2 linked regions of the Homo sapiens genome follow. The protein of the gene in region 2 interacts with the protein of the main gene of each other region in a pairwise test. Each region holds a gene or a part of one and is shown on either strand. Other genes may lie near its edges. The genes, in order: STAT1 and KDM3A.

What was found.
Region 1: the proteins of KDM3A (region 2) and STAT1 interact in binary tests that used the Homo sapiens proteins (3 or more experiments, as listed by UniProt).

What each region holds. Positions count from the first base shown.
Region 1 is NC_000002.12:190,975,964-190,983,236, reverse strand, and holds part of STAT1 (signal transducer and activator of transcription 1-alpha/beta), read left to right. Parts: intron 1-718; coding exon 719-854; intron 855-2,567; coding exon 2,568-2,617; intron 2,618-3,370; coding exon 3,371-3,465; intron 3,466-4,235; coding exon 4,236-4,381; intron 4,382-6,211; coding exon 6,212-6,397; intron 6,398-7,273. UniProt on the Homo sapiens protein: Signal transducer and transcription activator that mediates cellular responses to interferons (IFNs), cytokine KITLG/SCF and other cytokines and other growth factors.
Region 2 is NC_000002.12:86,436,232-86,444,370, forward strand, and holds the start of KDM3A (lysine-specific demethylase 3A), read left to right. Parts: upstream 1-5,139; 5' UTR 5,140-5,213; intron 5,214-5,229; exon of another isoform or gene 5,230-5,327; intron 5,328-5,438; exon of another isoform or gene 5,439-5,607; intron 5,608-5,786; 5' UTR 5,787-5,816; coding exon 5,817-6,002; intron 6,003-8,139. UniProt on the Homo sapiens protein: Histone demethylase that specifically demethylates 'Lys-9' of histone H3, thereby playing a central role in histone code.

The sequences.
Region 1 (7,273 bases), about 100 Mb from region 2:
TCCTAAGGGAACTACGAGGCTAGGTTCCTTCAAGCCTCTGGTCACAACATTTTTGTCAACCCATCAATGCATAACATTGTTTATGTGTGTTTCTGTTTAAAGACACCTTATCTAATACACTTGTTGAGGCATTAACATTACACCTATAGCTAGGATCACTGTAACTCATGCCTGAGTGAAGCTTGCCTCACACATGTATTTTCTCCATAAGGCACATCCCAGCCTTCCCATGCTTAGGAACAGTAGACCACACTGTGGTACTATGCTCGGGCACCATTTTAAACAGGGATCACCAACAGCAGTCACAAAATGCAAAAAACATGGCGCTAAATAGGCTTCAAAAAGGACACGTTTTTCTTATGAGAGGTGAAACAGGAAGCGAGTGTCATTTTGTTTGGCTTCAGTTGGAAGCGTGTTAAGAGACTCGAATTCTTTGCTGCTGTGTGCTGCTGTGTGTGCACGGGTGTGTCTTCAAATGACCCCAAAGATGCCATGTATTTAGATTTTGGAGTTACAAGTAAATTTTAGTGAGTAAACAAGTTCACAAATGTGCATCTGTAAATAATGAAAATTGACTGTATTTCTCTTCCCCTACTGTGAAAGCACCTGTGTGTCATATAAACTAGAATTGAACTTTGGGATGGACATATGTTTTAGTGCCACACTTGTGACTGGTGTCTCTGTAGTAACCCTTAGATTTTGGGTGTTTTCTCTCTAGAATCTGTCCTTCTTCCTGACTCCACCATGTGCACGATGGGCTCAGCTTTCAGAAGTGCTGAGTTGGCAGTTTTCTTCTGTCACCAAAAGAGGTCTCAATGTGGACCAGCTGAACATGTTGGGAGAGAAGCTTCTTGGTATATGCATATTAACTTGTTATGTTTATAAAAATTGAAATTCATAAAAATATCTCTCTAATTGCTCTTTTCCCCTCTGCTATTTTGTTAAAGGTAAAAAAGTACTAAAATCTGTCAGCTTTTCAAGCTATAGTTTATTATAGCTAAGTGAGAATCATATGTCACCTTAGAAAGAAATATAGACCTGATAACATTTAAATGAATCCGTTCCTCATTGTCTCATATTAAGATTTCTGAGATGAATTCCCAAGGGAAAGTTTTATGAATTATGTAAAATATATTATTTGTGGCTGAAATAAGTTCCTGGATGAGAAAGATGAAGGCCTATTAACCATTAACCTTGGGGAGAAAAAAGGAAGTCCCTGACATGATGAGAAATAAAGTCCTGGGGCTTGCCCACTGCAGCATAAACCCAGGGCCCTTGCCTCAGGTGGGGCCCAGGTAGCAGAGGATGCCGTCCCCACAAGAGGATGCCTCTTTTGATCTGCAGTTTTGCCTGATTGGACAGAGTCTAGACAGTGGTAGATAATTCCCTTTCAGTGGTTAATGTCAGTGCATTTATTAGTCCTTCATACTAAACAAATCAAAGATCCACTAGTCTCAAGGTCAGATCTTTCAGTGAGTGAGGCTATCTGAACTATTTCTTTAAAAATCCGTGGACAACTTGTATCCAGATTTGCTTTCTGTAGAGCAGCACTGCATTTACTCCAAACAGCAGTAGGCTCTTCCTAACTCAGTGACTTTCAACAGTGCCTTCTTCTCTTGGATATGCAGCTGTCACAGTGGTGGTCTTGTGCTGTTTAATACAAGTACAAAATCCCCTTATTCCATTTCTTTATTTGGTGAGAGTTAAGAAGGATATCTTTTCTAGCTGTAATGGCTCATTTGTAGTTCTCTTTGAAGACCGATAATGGGCTTACCGCCTCTTCTCGCCCAGGCTGCTTTAATTTGTGTAGCTAATAACCCCGGGCTTCTTCCTCTCGTTTCTCTCACTTGGTTTTTGATTTGCATCAGACTGCCTGAGCCCATGTCCTATTTGGAGGAAAGCTGAGGGAAATGCATAAATAATGTCTAAAATAAACTTGTAAAGTCAAGTATCAGTTACATTGAAGATCTAGGGGTGATCTTGGGCACCTAGGTTGAACTTTGAAAAAAATTCTGTAGGATCCTTGGGAGAGGGGGCTCTGCTGAGCAGCAGAGGAAGGCAGTGGGAAGAGGCACTGGATAGGGAGGCTTCTCTAGGAGGCCCAGCAGAACACCTTTGATTTAGTGCAAAAGGCAAAGTCAGCTGATGGTCTTGGAAGGAAGTGTAACATGAAGAGGCATTAAAAGGACTGTCCTCTCTTTAGAGGAGGGAGGGAAAAGGGGGGCTGGGGAGGGAGAGAGCAGATGGTAAGGCTTTGTGATGTTTCCGCTTTCCCTAAAAACTCTCATATCGTGGTGCCCAGGAATCTGCCATCCATTCCTTTCTGCCATTAAACTCAAACCAACATATACATATTTTAGACCATTTAAATTCCGCCCTCTTACAGCACGTATTATAATTGCTCAGTTAATTTGGCATTAAGGTATCCGAAAATGTCAACTGTGTACATACAATCTTTGTTGGGTGTTTGGCTCTTTTCCTTGAGAGCAAATACAAGAGCCATCCGTCCAACCAAAGCTTTAGAATCAGTTTCTGTTTGCTGAAAAATCTGGTTTTTATTTGTTTAGGTCCTAACGCCAGCCCCGATGGTCTCATTCCGTGGACGAGGTTTTGTAAGGTGAGGACTGTCTGGGTTTTATGCTCTCTAAGTCCTTTTTGCTCTTGGTTGAGGTTCTCATGTTTCTTGCTGTGATAGTTACTTAACTGTTTGCTTATTTTGGCGTGTTCTTCTCTGGCCAAGGAGCCCCTCGGGCAAGTTGTTTACTTTTCTTCAGTGCAGGAGGTTGGTCTCCGAGCAGGAGTCTGACAGGAAGCACCTGCCTGAGTGATAACATTCTTTCATATCTGAAATGAGGCTTCTGTTCACTCACGCTGGACCCCTGCCCAGCAGTGTTTTAGCCATTTCTGTGTGAAATGTATGTTGTGGGCTGGGTGGCGCAGCCTGACCAGCCAGACGAGTTTAACGGCCTGCTCGAGCAGAGGGGCCCACTGCGGGGAACATTTAGATTCTGCTGGAGTCACCAGACAGTGCGGACCAGCTTGCACTGCTGGATTTTGCTAGTGTGGGGCAGCTTGTGTTTCCGTGAGTCACGCTGGAGGTCACCCCCAGGCTAGCTTGCTACTGTTTGGAAAGGGAAGCAGAGCCCGGCCCAGGGAAGTGGAGAGCTCTGGAGAGCTCCTGGTCTGAATGCTGATAAGAGCGGGGAGGGAACTTGATATTCCCTGCCAGGGGAGGGATCCCATTGCTGTGCTGAATGGGACAGTTCCATCCTTGGCACCTGGGGAGTCTTTGCAAATGATGGTGGGAGGGGCCATGGTAAGTCATTGTTTTAGATTTTTGTTCATAATGTCTGCATTTGTATACTTTCAGGAAAATATAAATGATAAAAATTTTCCCTTCTGGCTTTGGATTGAAAGCATCCTAGAACTCATTAAAAAACACCTGCTCCCTCTCTGGAATGATGGGTAAGGGCCACCGATAGATGTATTTTGAAACATATTTTTAGTGCTGCGAGGTTGAGACAAGGCCTGAGTCCAGCTTCAGTATTTGACTAGGCGTGTGTGAATCTCACAGGAGTGCGCATTTATAGGCTGCCCCTTCAGGGCTTCAGAAGAGTAGAACCTCATAACATTAACCTTACACTTTCTTAGTACAAGTATATGTATTGGCAAAGCTAAATTAAAAAAAAAAAACAACTCTTGAGTGCCATTCATGCATTCATTCACTCAACAAAAATTTTTTGAGCACCTACTATGTGGCCCCTAGGAAGGAAGAAAAACCCTTTTAACTGGGTAAATCATTTCTATCTTGACTTATTGCCAGGATCGGCTGATATTTCAACAGAAGCTTTAACTTGATCAGAAGGGCTAAAATATGAAAATATATTGCCTAGGTCTTCCTCTCCAGTAAAAAAGATGTATACATTCAGACATTGTTATGGCCTTTAAAATAATAAAGGAACAATAAAAGGCTCATTAATCCCACACGTGTTATTGAGCATCTGTAGCATCCTACTGACACCATGTTCATATCGCTTTTTTTAAAACCTTAGTATATACATGTATAAGTGAAATGCTTCCTTAAGTGTCAACTGAACAGATTTTAAAATAGTCTACGTTTTTTACCGTAGGTTTTTTTTCTCACATTCCAGCCATTTTCTTGGTTTGTAAGTTAGCATGAAAATGGAAATCATGATTGAACTAAAAGCCCATCCGTCCATCTCTTCGATATCCAGGTGCATCATGGGCTTCATCAGCAAGGAGCGAGAGCGTGCCCTGTTGAAGGACCAGCAGCCGGGGACCTTCCTGCTGCGGTTCAGTGAGAGCTCCCGGGAAGGGGCCATCACATTCACATGGGTGGAGCGGTCCCAGAACGGAGGCGGTGAGTGGGAGTTTGAGCACATAGTCCCACCATTCCATGTGTGTGAAGTCCCTCTTCATCGCCGCCAGTCAGCTCATACAGATAGTGCGTTTGGGACATGAAATTGCAGATCTTATACTTACCCCAAATGAGCCCCCGATAGGATTTAATAAACCACCACAAATGTTTGTGGTTGTGGTTCACTCTCTGGAACATATTGTGGAAATGATGGTTTTGAAAAGACAATGCCAATTCTTTCCTTTGCATCAGGTTTGTTATCTGCAGATCAAGGATGTGAGTCAATGTAATCTGCAACCCGTTCTTGGAAGGAATCACATTTCCCACAGGAGTAAGCATCCACATTCTCTTAGGGTCATCCCAGAGTAGAGTGTGCAGATGAGACAGGCTTCGGGAGAAGACTTCATACACATCATCAGCCAGGGAGTTGATGCAGGACCTGTTGGGACGAGTGGCAGCCTCTACCCTGCCTTCAAACAGAGCAGCTGCAAATTTATCTTTATCATATATGGGGTTTCTATTTAATCAAATGAGTCCATGGCTAAAAGACTCCAGAAACCTTGGTGTTATGAAGCAGGTTTCTGAGGGTGAAGCTCAACAGCGTAAATGAAAAAATCATAAAGACCAACTGATTACTTTTCACTGTTGTTTAGAGTTTGGTCTGTTTGAAGGGCAGGAGGAAAAACTGATTTGTTTTAGTAATTTTTATACTTTCAGTGGGTAGACACAAAATGGAATACTCTTCTTGTTCTATTTATTTTTCTGAAATATTCCTCTTCTCCTGTTTTTCTGGAATACTCTTATTCTATTTGTTTTTCTGCCATACTCTTCTTGTTCTGTTTGTTTTTCTGGAATACTCTTCTATTTTTTTTTTCTGGAACGGTATTCTTTCTTGTTCTGTTTATTTTTCAGGAATACTCTTCTTGTTCTATTTGTTTTTCTGGAATACTTTTCTTGTTCTATTTTTCTTCTGAGGAAAAAGCAGGGAGGCTGAGATGAGAGTCTGGCGTGGGCAGTAGTCATTAGAACCTGCCCTTTTCCTCTTATCCTGTTCCCTTCCTGAACCAGCTGAGAGACAGATATAGTAGACCAAGCAGAGATGAAGAAAACCCTTGGCAACCAGGAAAGGTCAAGCAGGACACTACCAGCCAGGAAGGGTTAGGATGGCAGCATAGTCTCATGTTCCACAGCAGGCTCCCCAGAACACCTGAACCGTGGCCTCTGGAAGGTCGACACCCAAAGGGAGATTCTGTATCAGCTAGGAAGAAGGATCTGAATTCAGTCTGGGAATAAGAACGGGAGTAAATTAAACCATGGTTTATTACGTTAAGGGTTACAGGGAAATGTAGCAAATAGGATCATTTTTAATTTGAAATGTTGTTTTCTATATATCATAATTTATTTTAATAAAAAATTAGATTTTTCAATATGAAAAGAAAAACAAAGTGAGTTTATCTCTAGTAATTTAAATCTGTGGCTTAAGCCAAGATGATCCACTTAGTAGTAAGTTATTTATGTGCCTATGGGCAGCACATCATTGAAGATGCAGGCTTTTAAAGGTTTTTAATAAATCTTTTTTGCCCAGATTTATAAATCTAAGCAAATAATGGCAAATAGAATGTTATTGAGAATAATACCTCCCTTTATTTTCCCTGAGACAGTATTATAATTTATTTAGAAATAAAGCAGTCTACTGTATATGTTATAATGCTTAGATTGTGATTAGTTCTTATGAGGTTCACTCAAATCCATCAACTCTGCAGTGTTTTATTTCTCTGTCCTCTTTCATTTTGGGATGTTCTATGGGATTTACTTAGCTTTTCTCCTTTTTAGAACCTGACTTCCATGCGGTTGAACCCTACACGAAGAAAGAACTTTCTGCTGTTACTTTCCCTGACATCATTCGCAATTACAAAGTCATGGCTGCTGAGAATATTCCTGAGAATCCCCTGAAGTATCTGTATCCAAATATTGACAAAGACCATGCCTTTGGAAAGTATTACTCCAGGCCAAAGGAAGGTAAGTGGGGCAAGCAGGTGGTAACAGCGTGGCACAGTCTTTCCTGATGAGGGGGTGATTATTCTGAAACTCCACCCATGCAGTGTTTTGCTTTCGAATTGGTAAGAGTAGGCTTTCAAAAGATGGCATAAACTCAGTGCAGGTGAAACATAATGCATTATTTGGCCTGATACAGCTAGTAAGAAATGAATGGACAATTTCCTATTTTAGGAATGTTGGAAAAGTCCATTGCTGGTCTTGTGTATTTGTTACTATCACTGTTTCCACATGAAAAGGGTTTAAATAAGGAACTGTGGTAAACCAACAGAAGGCATCTTGCTCACGTTAAAGTTGAGGAAACTGAGGCCTGGGAGAAGTGAAGTGGTTCATTTAGGGTGGCCCAATTACTTACTAGATCCTATTTTTATTAGATAATTATTAAGAGGAGGCCTCATCTGAGAACACAGGTCTCTTGCTTCTCAGTTGTCAATGAATTGCATTTGAGAAGGTTCGAATTAGACCTGTTTTGTTTGGAACACACCAACAAAGCTGTTTTTCAGAATCAGAAATCTCAATATTAGGACAATTACTTTGGAATGAAGATGTCCCCAGCTTACCTTGACAGCTGTGAATATTCATTAGCCAGGCTAATGCCAATAAACTGGATAGAACTTTGCATATTTTGGGCTCAGACTTCTTGTAAGATTTCAAGTTGTGTAAAGAGAAAGCTCCTAGCTAGTGTCCTGCTGAACACTAGCTTATTTCCAGACTGAATTCAGATCCTTCTTCTCGTTGTTTCTGCATTCCCACTAGAATTTTAGGTGACTCAGGCAGGGAGGTTATAGCTCCTTAAAGTTTTAGGAGGCTAAGCTGTCTAGAAACACAGTAGAACTTTAA
Region 2 (8,139 bases):
AAGCATATTCCAAATTTTCTGTTGCCAACTTTCTTAAGGCATTTGGGAACTTCTGATGTCCTCTGGAGCTAGGGTTGACACAGCAAGTTAGTGTCAGGATTTGACTGGAATATATACCCTGAAGCTTGGATAATTTTTACTAACCAGTGGAAGTTATTTCTGGCAATACCCAGTGGCTAAAATATATTTGTTGGCAGTTTCAATATCCTGCTGCTCAGTCCTCCATCTGTCTTCACCTCAGTGTATCCTTTGACCTTACTGCATGGTCTTCCAAGTTGAAACTCTTTTTGGCTTGCTTCCAGAATGTACCTCTCACCTGGTTCTCCTGCTGCTTCTAAGAGATCTCTTGGTCTTTTCAGTGCCCACTGCTGGTCCCTACATGAATGCCCTCCTCACCCTCCTTGGGGTCTGACATCCATGTCAAATCACTCTCCTACACACTCTCCTCCCCCTCCTCAGGCTCTGTTACTCATGCCAGGCTTTCTTCTCATGTAAACAGTCTCTTCACTCTGTTTGGGCTCCAACATACCACACTAGGCTGCCCCCATTCATGGATGCCCTCCTCACCTCACTTGGACTCTAGATAACCCAGGCTAGGTTAACCTTTTGTGTGTCTACCCTTCTCACCCCACTTGGGCTCTGACTGTCTATGCCCGGCTATTACTCCTTACTCTTTAGAGCTCTAACATCCCATGGCTGACAGCCTCTCCTTATTAACACCTATCTTGCTCTGCCCCTCCTAATGGCCTCAAGACTGAAATGTTTAGAAAGAGGAAAGGAAAGAGAAAAAAGTAGAAGAGAGGAGGGAATTTTAAAATATTTTATTGGATTTTAAAATATGTAGCATTTTGATCTACCTGGAACTTATTTTCGTGAATGTTGGTGTAGGAATCTTGGTTATATATACATTATATACTTTTTTTTTTTGAGACAGAGTCTTGCTTCGTCATCCAGGCTGGAGTGCAGTGGCGTGATCTCAGCTCACTGCAACCTCTGCTTCCTGGGTTTAAGGTTCAAGTGATTCTTCTGTCTCAGCCTCCCGAGTAGCTGGGATTGTGGATGTGCACCACAACAGCCAGCTAATTTTTACAGTAGCGATGAGGTCTCACCATGTTGGCCAGGCTGGTCTCAAACTCCTGACCTGAAGTGATCTGCCACCTCAGCTTCCCAAAATGCTGGGATTACAGGCATAAGTCACTGCGCCCGGCTTATATATACATTTTTAATGGATAATCAATAGACCTCAAAGCATGTATTGCATAGTTTATTCTTTACACCCACTAGAAATATGTCGATCACAAACTAATTTTTAATATACACTGGGTCTGTTTCTTTGTTCTCTTCATTACTTATATATTTATGTCTTGATGTTTTTATTTGTTGTTTTGTTAGAGGAGAAATGACATATTTATCAGATCATATCAAGAGACAGAATTTTTCATCTTCTTTATACATGTCAGCAAAGTCTAATTTTCTTCATATAGGTTGTGTTCATTTCATGTATTAATTTTTAGGGATTACATGTTTTATTATCATTAATGGTTTTTATTTTTCTACTGTATGTTCTAATTGATGCTTGCTAAGGAATAGGAATTCTTTTGATTTTCGTTTGTTGATCTTTTATTGCATTATCTTTTTGATTCTTGTTTTAATTCTAATAATTTGTCACTGATGCTTTTGATTTATCTACAAATGTTTTGGGCTTTTTCTTCCATTCCAATGTTTACATTGTATTATTTTTCTTGTCTTATTACATTAGCAATTAACCTCTATTGTAACTTGAATAGTAATGACAGCATTGGGCATCCTTATCTTGCTCCTGACTTTATTGGGAATTTTTCTAAAATTTCACAATTAAGTACAATGTTTAAGTATATTTCTGGTAGATATCCTTTATAGAGTTATAAAATTTTCTTTTCTTGATAGTTTGCTAAGAGTTTTTATAATGAATGAAAATGAAGTATATAAAATTTTTGGTGTATCTATTGAGATAATCATATGTATTTTCTCCTTTAATTTGTTAATGTAGCAGATTCCATTAATGAGAGTTAAAAATTAAATTTTAAAAGTAACATGTGAGTACATTTACCTTATAAAATGAGAGAATTACAGGGAGTGGGGAGATTGGGTAGATGTTGGTCAAAGGACACAAAATTTCAGTTAGACAGGAGGAATAAGTTCAAATGATCTAATGTACATCATGGTGACTACAGTTAATGACAATATATTGTATATTTGAAAATTGCTAAGAGTGGATTTTAAGTGTTCTCACCACACAAAAAAAGATGAGTATGTGAGGGAATGCATATGTAAAATAATTTGATATAGCCATTCCACAATGTATATCTATACCAAAACATCATATTGTACACCATATAGTTTTACCTGTCAATTAAAAATAAGGTGATAAAAATGTAAATACAAAAAAAGTGTATTTATAAAAAATTAGAATTACAAATAATATGTGTTGTCTTTGACTAATACCCCTAATTCTAGTGTGCACCCCCTAATACCAGTAACCATTACTGTAAGTTTTAATAACCATATTTAACAGAACATATATACTGTTGTTTTTGTATGTGTATTTTGAAATAGTACCAAATGCAAATTTCTTTTTCATTCATAATGTATTTTGGTAACTATTTTTATTGGAACATCTAGCTGCTTTGACTCCTTTACAAATCCTCTACAACTTTCCAATATATGCATTACATTCCATTTATTGTTAATAATTTTATTTATTCCTTCTCCAACTGGAGTACACTTAGGTTATTTGCAGATGTTTTTTCGTTCATATGTGTGTGGGTGTTTTTCTGTGGTACGTAACTTATATTCCTAGGTTTTTAGAAAGTTTAAAAACATTTTTTAAAAATTATGGGTGGTATTGAATATAAGTGTACACTTATAATCTTCTTAGTTTTCTATGTAATTTAAAAATACTCTTAAGATCACAAGTGTTCAATGTGACTGCATGCTCTATTTAGCCCTAAGGTGAATATACGATTTTTCTTTTTTAACCTGTCATGGTGAATTTTAGTAATTTTCTAATCTTGAAGTATCTTTGCATTCATATAACACTAATTAATCATATCAATTACCTAAAAAAAATGCTGCTGGATTTAATTTGCTGGTATTTTATAAAAGAATTTCCCATCTATGTTCCTAAGTATAATTGAACCATAGTTTTTCTTTCTTATACTCGCCCAGTTCAGAATTTGTGAAACGGTTTTATAACTTTTATAAAATGCATTGGATATCTTTCCATCTTTTCTAAGCTCTGAAATAATGAATTCAACATAGAAAGTATATGTTCCTTCAGGTTCAATAGAATTTTTCCCTTGAGTTGTTTTTCAAATTAATATTTAATTACATAATCTAAGTTCTCCATATCTTCCCTTATATTTTACATTTGAGTTGCATATTTCTGAGATATTTATGTCTTCTACTCTGAAAACAAATTGTCAAATTTGTAAAATTTCTCATCGTTCATAGCGTCACCTTAGGATAGGCCATGTTTTTAGATTCATAACAGTTCAGGAGACCATACTGTCTTCATGGACTTTATCTTTAATATAAAATCCTTTCTCTTTTGATACTTTTAATTGTATTAATATTGCTATACTGCTTTCATTTGGCTACCATTTGATTAAATATTTTAGCCCAGTATTTTCAAGCTTCCTGTTTTGTAAGCATTTGCTTATGGTCAATTTATAGCTGGATTGTCCTTTTATTCCCAACTGTCTTTTAAAACTTGTGAGTGAAATTAACCCATTTACATTTATTGTAAATACTGATGTTTGGACTTTTCACATGAAAAACATTTTTACCATATGTTCTGGTTTCTTTTGCTTATCTCGTTCCCATTTCTGCCTTCTTTCAGCTGGATAGGTTTTTTCTTCTCATTTAGCAGCCCCCTTCCTTTAAATGGTCTACAGATTATAAATCCAATTTAATTCTTGTTACTAACTTTAAAAACTTAAAATCACATTCAGAATATGTATATTGAAAATCAACATCCAGAGTTGATTTGCATCTATAATCCCTTATATGTTTCCAAACATTCTCTGATTATACGTTTCCACGCTTGTAAAATGGGAGGCATGAGTTCTTCTTAAGGATTAAATGTGATGTAATGTCAAACACTAGCCTTTATGAACATATCTTCAATTTCTTCATTCCATTTCTTTTTCATTCAATCAAAATACTTCAGGTCCAGAGCACACAATCACCTCTAAACTCCTTTGTCCTTCAAAGTCACCTTCTCTTTCATCTCTTCCATCATTCATTATGGCCTTCAACTACTTTAAATTTCTTTGTAAGTATCTGAATACCTTCTCAATCCCACTTTGGAGAAAAAAAAATCTCATTATACATTGTATTTAAAGGTCTCTTTTGCTCTAAATTTAATGAACGTCATTATCCAGTAACTCCACGCCTTTCTTCATTTATCCTTCAAAATGGCGGACTTTAGACGTTCCACGATCAGTACCACGTGCGCCTGCGCCTCCCGCAGCCATTTCGCCCAGCAGCCTAAGCTCGGCGAGGCGCCTGCGCACGAGCCTCCAGAGCACTATCGCTCCTCCCTCTAGCTGAGTACGCCTGAAACCGCACGTTCTCTTCCCTGCCCTCCCCCGCTAACCCTGCACCGCCCTCACCCTTTCCTGTGAGATTCTTCCGCCAAGTGGAAGGCTCATCTTCGGTCGACAGCCTACGCGGTTGAAGAACAATCCAGTAGGCACTTATAGCTCAGGGTCTCGCCATTCAGTCTTATCTATGCGCCACAGCAATTTTCCTCCGGGCCCCAAAGTTGATAACCGATTTCGCGGGACTTTTTTTTTGCATACTGTGAGGCAACAAATGGAAAGAATAGGCCTATGGCGGAGGGATCACTCGCTTATTCTCTGTGTACTTTAACCTAATGGGGGTCGCCCGGGAGTCGGAAGGGGGAGGGGAAAGGGAGGAGGCAGCCAAGGAATTGTTTTTTTCTCTGGCCCCGCCCTCGCCCGGGGGGCCAATGGTGATGATCTGTTTCCCCCGGAGCCTCGCCCAGCTCCTGTGTTTCAGCCAATGAGCGGCGGAAGCGGCTCCGAGGGGGGCGGGTCCGGGAGGCTGTGCGTGTCTTGTGAGAGCTCTTGAACCAAGTCAGCGCTGGAGTCGGCTAGGCGGCTGGAAACGGCGGCTGCCGCCGGTGACTCAGGGAGGCGGGAGGCGGGGTAAGAGCGCCGCGGCCTCGGCTGCGGGGAGAGGGGAGAGAAAGGTGAAAGCGCCGAGCGCGCGGCCCCGTCGCCCGTTGGCAGCGGCGCAGGCCCGGGAGACGGGCGCCCGGGGTTCGGGGCCGGGGAGCTGGGCGCCGGGGCGGGGCGGCGGGGCAAGTGCGGAATCGCGGGCTCGCCCACCCTCCCCCGTGGGGCCGCCCGGGGCGGGGACCCAGCCGCCCGGGACCGGCTCTCTGCACCAGGGGCCTTTTCTTTTCGGGGCTGGGGGCTGAGCACTTTCAAATCCACTCGAGCCGCAGATAATTTTTCCCTCACTCCCTCTGCGGTTGCGTTTGAGCTGTTAGAAAAGCCAAACTTGGGAGAGCGAGGGTCACGCGGCGCTGGGGCCCGGGTGTGTGGCGGGGGAGGGCGGCGGGGGGCGGGAGGGCGCAGGAGGGGGGCTCGGTGCGGGTCCGCCCGGGGCCGCGTCCTCGCGCGGGTTCGGCGCCCTCCGCCCGCCCTCCCTGCTGTCTCCGCCCGGCCCCCTCCCACCGGCCGCCCCCGTCGCATTTTGTTTTTGTGTTTTTGCAGGGAGGAGCTCTTCCTGCAGGCGTGGAAACCATGGTGCTCACGCTCGGAGAAAGTTGGCCGGTATTGGTGGGGAGGAGGTTTCTCAGTCTGTCCGCAGCCGACGGCAGCGATGGCAGCCACGACAGCTGGGACGTGGAGCGCGTCGCCGAGTGGCCCTGGCTCTCCGGGACCATTCGAGCTGTTTCCCACACCGACGTTACCAAGAAGGATCTGAAGGTACAGGCGGCTCCGGGCCTCTGCCACCGGACGTTTCGCAGTTACCGTGGTAACGCGACCATCGGTTCCCTCCTTCCGTTTTCTGAAAACGGAGACCAGAAAGTTGGCATATGATCTGAAGGTGCAGGAAGCTAGATCTTGAAAGTCTTTGGAATGGTTGTATAGAGCCGAGTTGTGTTTGGCCCACAGCTCCTGGCTGCCTGGCTTTAATAATGGGCTTAGGGTTGTTCAGACACGCTTCATTAATGCCGGTGCTGTGTCCCACCAGGACTGTCTCATCTTTACTGCAGAGGAGGAGGAGTATTTTTGTTAGCGTTAGGTAGGGCCTGTAAGTGACGTTTGGAGTCATTAAGAATTGAAGGTTAGTGCTTGGAAGTACTTTCAGCTGGTTTTGTTTGTTTGTTCCTGTTAATTTATTCACTCAACTTTTAAAAAAACTTTCAGACTTGTTAAAAATGAAGTGAGTGTAGAGGGAGGAGCTTAAGTTCTGTTTGGCGTATTAGGATGGGTGTTTGTCCGTATATGGTGGGTCAGGGCAGGAGTGGGTTCCTGGTTGTCTGTGATGAGCCGGTGGGTGGGTGTGGGATATGACCATATATGGAGGGATGGGGTGGAGCTGTCCCATATATGGCATATTGGAGGACTGGCTTAGAAATACTGCACTTGGACGCATGAGGGGAGGGAGAGAATTGGGAACAAGTGCGGCCAGTGATTTTTTTTTAAATCATTATGACACTCAGAACCTTTTTCTGTTAGATCTTTTCAAAGACAGATGAATTCTGATTGTGCTCCCTAATAGAAGTATTGATGTGAAAGGATTGTCTGGGAACAAGCAGTGAGGAAGCCATTGTACCAACAAAGACTCCTTTGTGCGAAAATAACTGAAAAAAGGTTCCTAACAAAGACTCCAAAGTGGTGATAACTTGAAGGAAGCTTGTCAGAACAGAAGATATTTCCACCCTGCCTAGTAGATGTGTTTCAGAATCTTCACTTGGCCATCATCTTTGCTTTTTCTTAAACTATGTTCAAATAAAGGCAGCAAGTTTTAGCATTGGCAGTTGATTATATGTTGATTTCTGAAACACTGTTCATTTGAACACTTTCAGGGTGACAGTGTATGCCCAAACTGGTATTTATCTGCAAAGAGTTGTAGGAAAGGGGTATGCTGTTAGGCATGTTTTAAAGCTTCAGTGTTGTGCCTTGTCTCTTGTTGAAAAGGAGGAGTGACCGAAGAGCATTTAACCATGTGGCAAGCACTTCACAACTATGATCTCGTTTAATCCTTACAGCAGTTCTTGGGGGTAGGTACTAATATTGCCCCCATTTTATGGATGAAACTACTGTGCCTGAGGGACGTTAAGCATCTTGCCAAGGACACATACGTAGGAATTGACATAGCCTGTATTCTGTCAAACCCAGGAAGTTTTACTCCAGAAGCTGCCCTCTTAACCATCAGGCCAGTGATCAAGAGCTATGCCACAGCAGAGCTCCTGTCATAGGCTGTGAGGTTTGGTTTTTTCCTGCATTCGGCTCATTCTCCTGCCAAATCAGGTTTTGATGTTTATAGAGATAATATATTGTGGTGCAAGAATGGCCAACCTTTTTGCTTTGGGCTTATAACCTTTCTGTAAGCTGGGCTTTGTGTACTAGATTTCAGTCGTGCTTGTTGTGGTTTATTTCGCCTGCCAAATAAAATTTTCTCTAGTGCATTTGTTTTTATGTGATTTGAATGGAAACAAGATTTTATTTAAACTTTCCAGTCTTTAGTTCTTTGGCAGATGTTGAGAGACTAGGCGTTCCCTTCCCTTCTGTAGCAGCAATTGAGGACCTGTTGGGTTAGGCAGGCAATCTAGGAGGAACTTCACATGTATATATTTTTTAAATCTCCTCCCTCCGCCCCCATCCTTTGAGGAGGTGGTGATATCTTCATTTTCAGAATGAGGAAATAGATTTAGGAAAAGGAATCTTGTCCAGATTTGCATAATTAGCTGCGGAGGGAGGCTGCGAATCCAGATTGGGCCCAGTGTCTTCTCCACTGCACTTTGGTGCCTAACCTGAAGACAACTGGGAATTCATGTCAAAAACAATTTTGGCTAGGTTGGATTTTTGCCTTACTTGTACACATCACAACTCAACC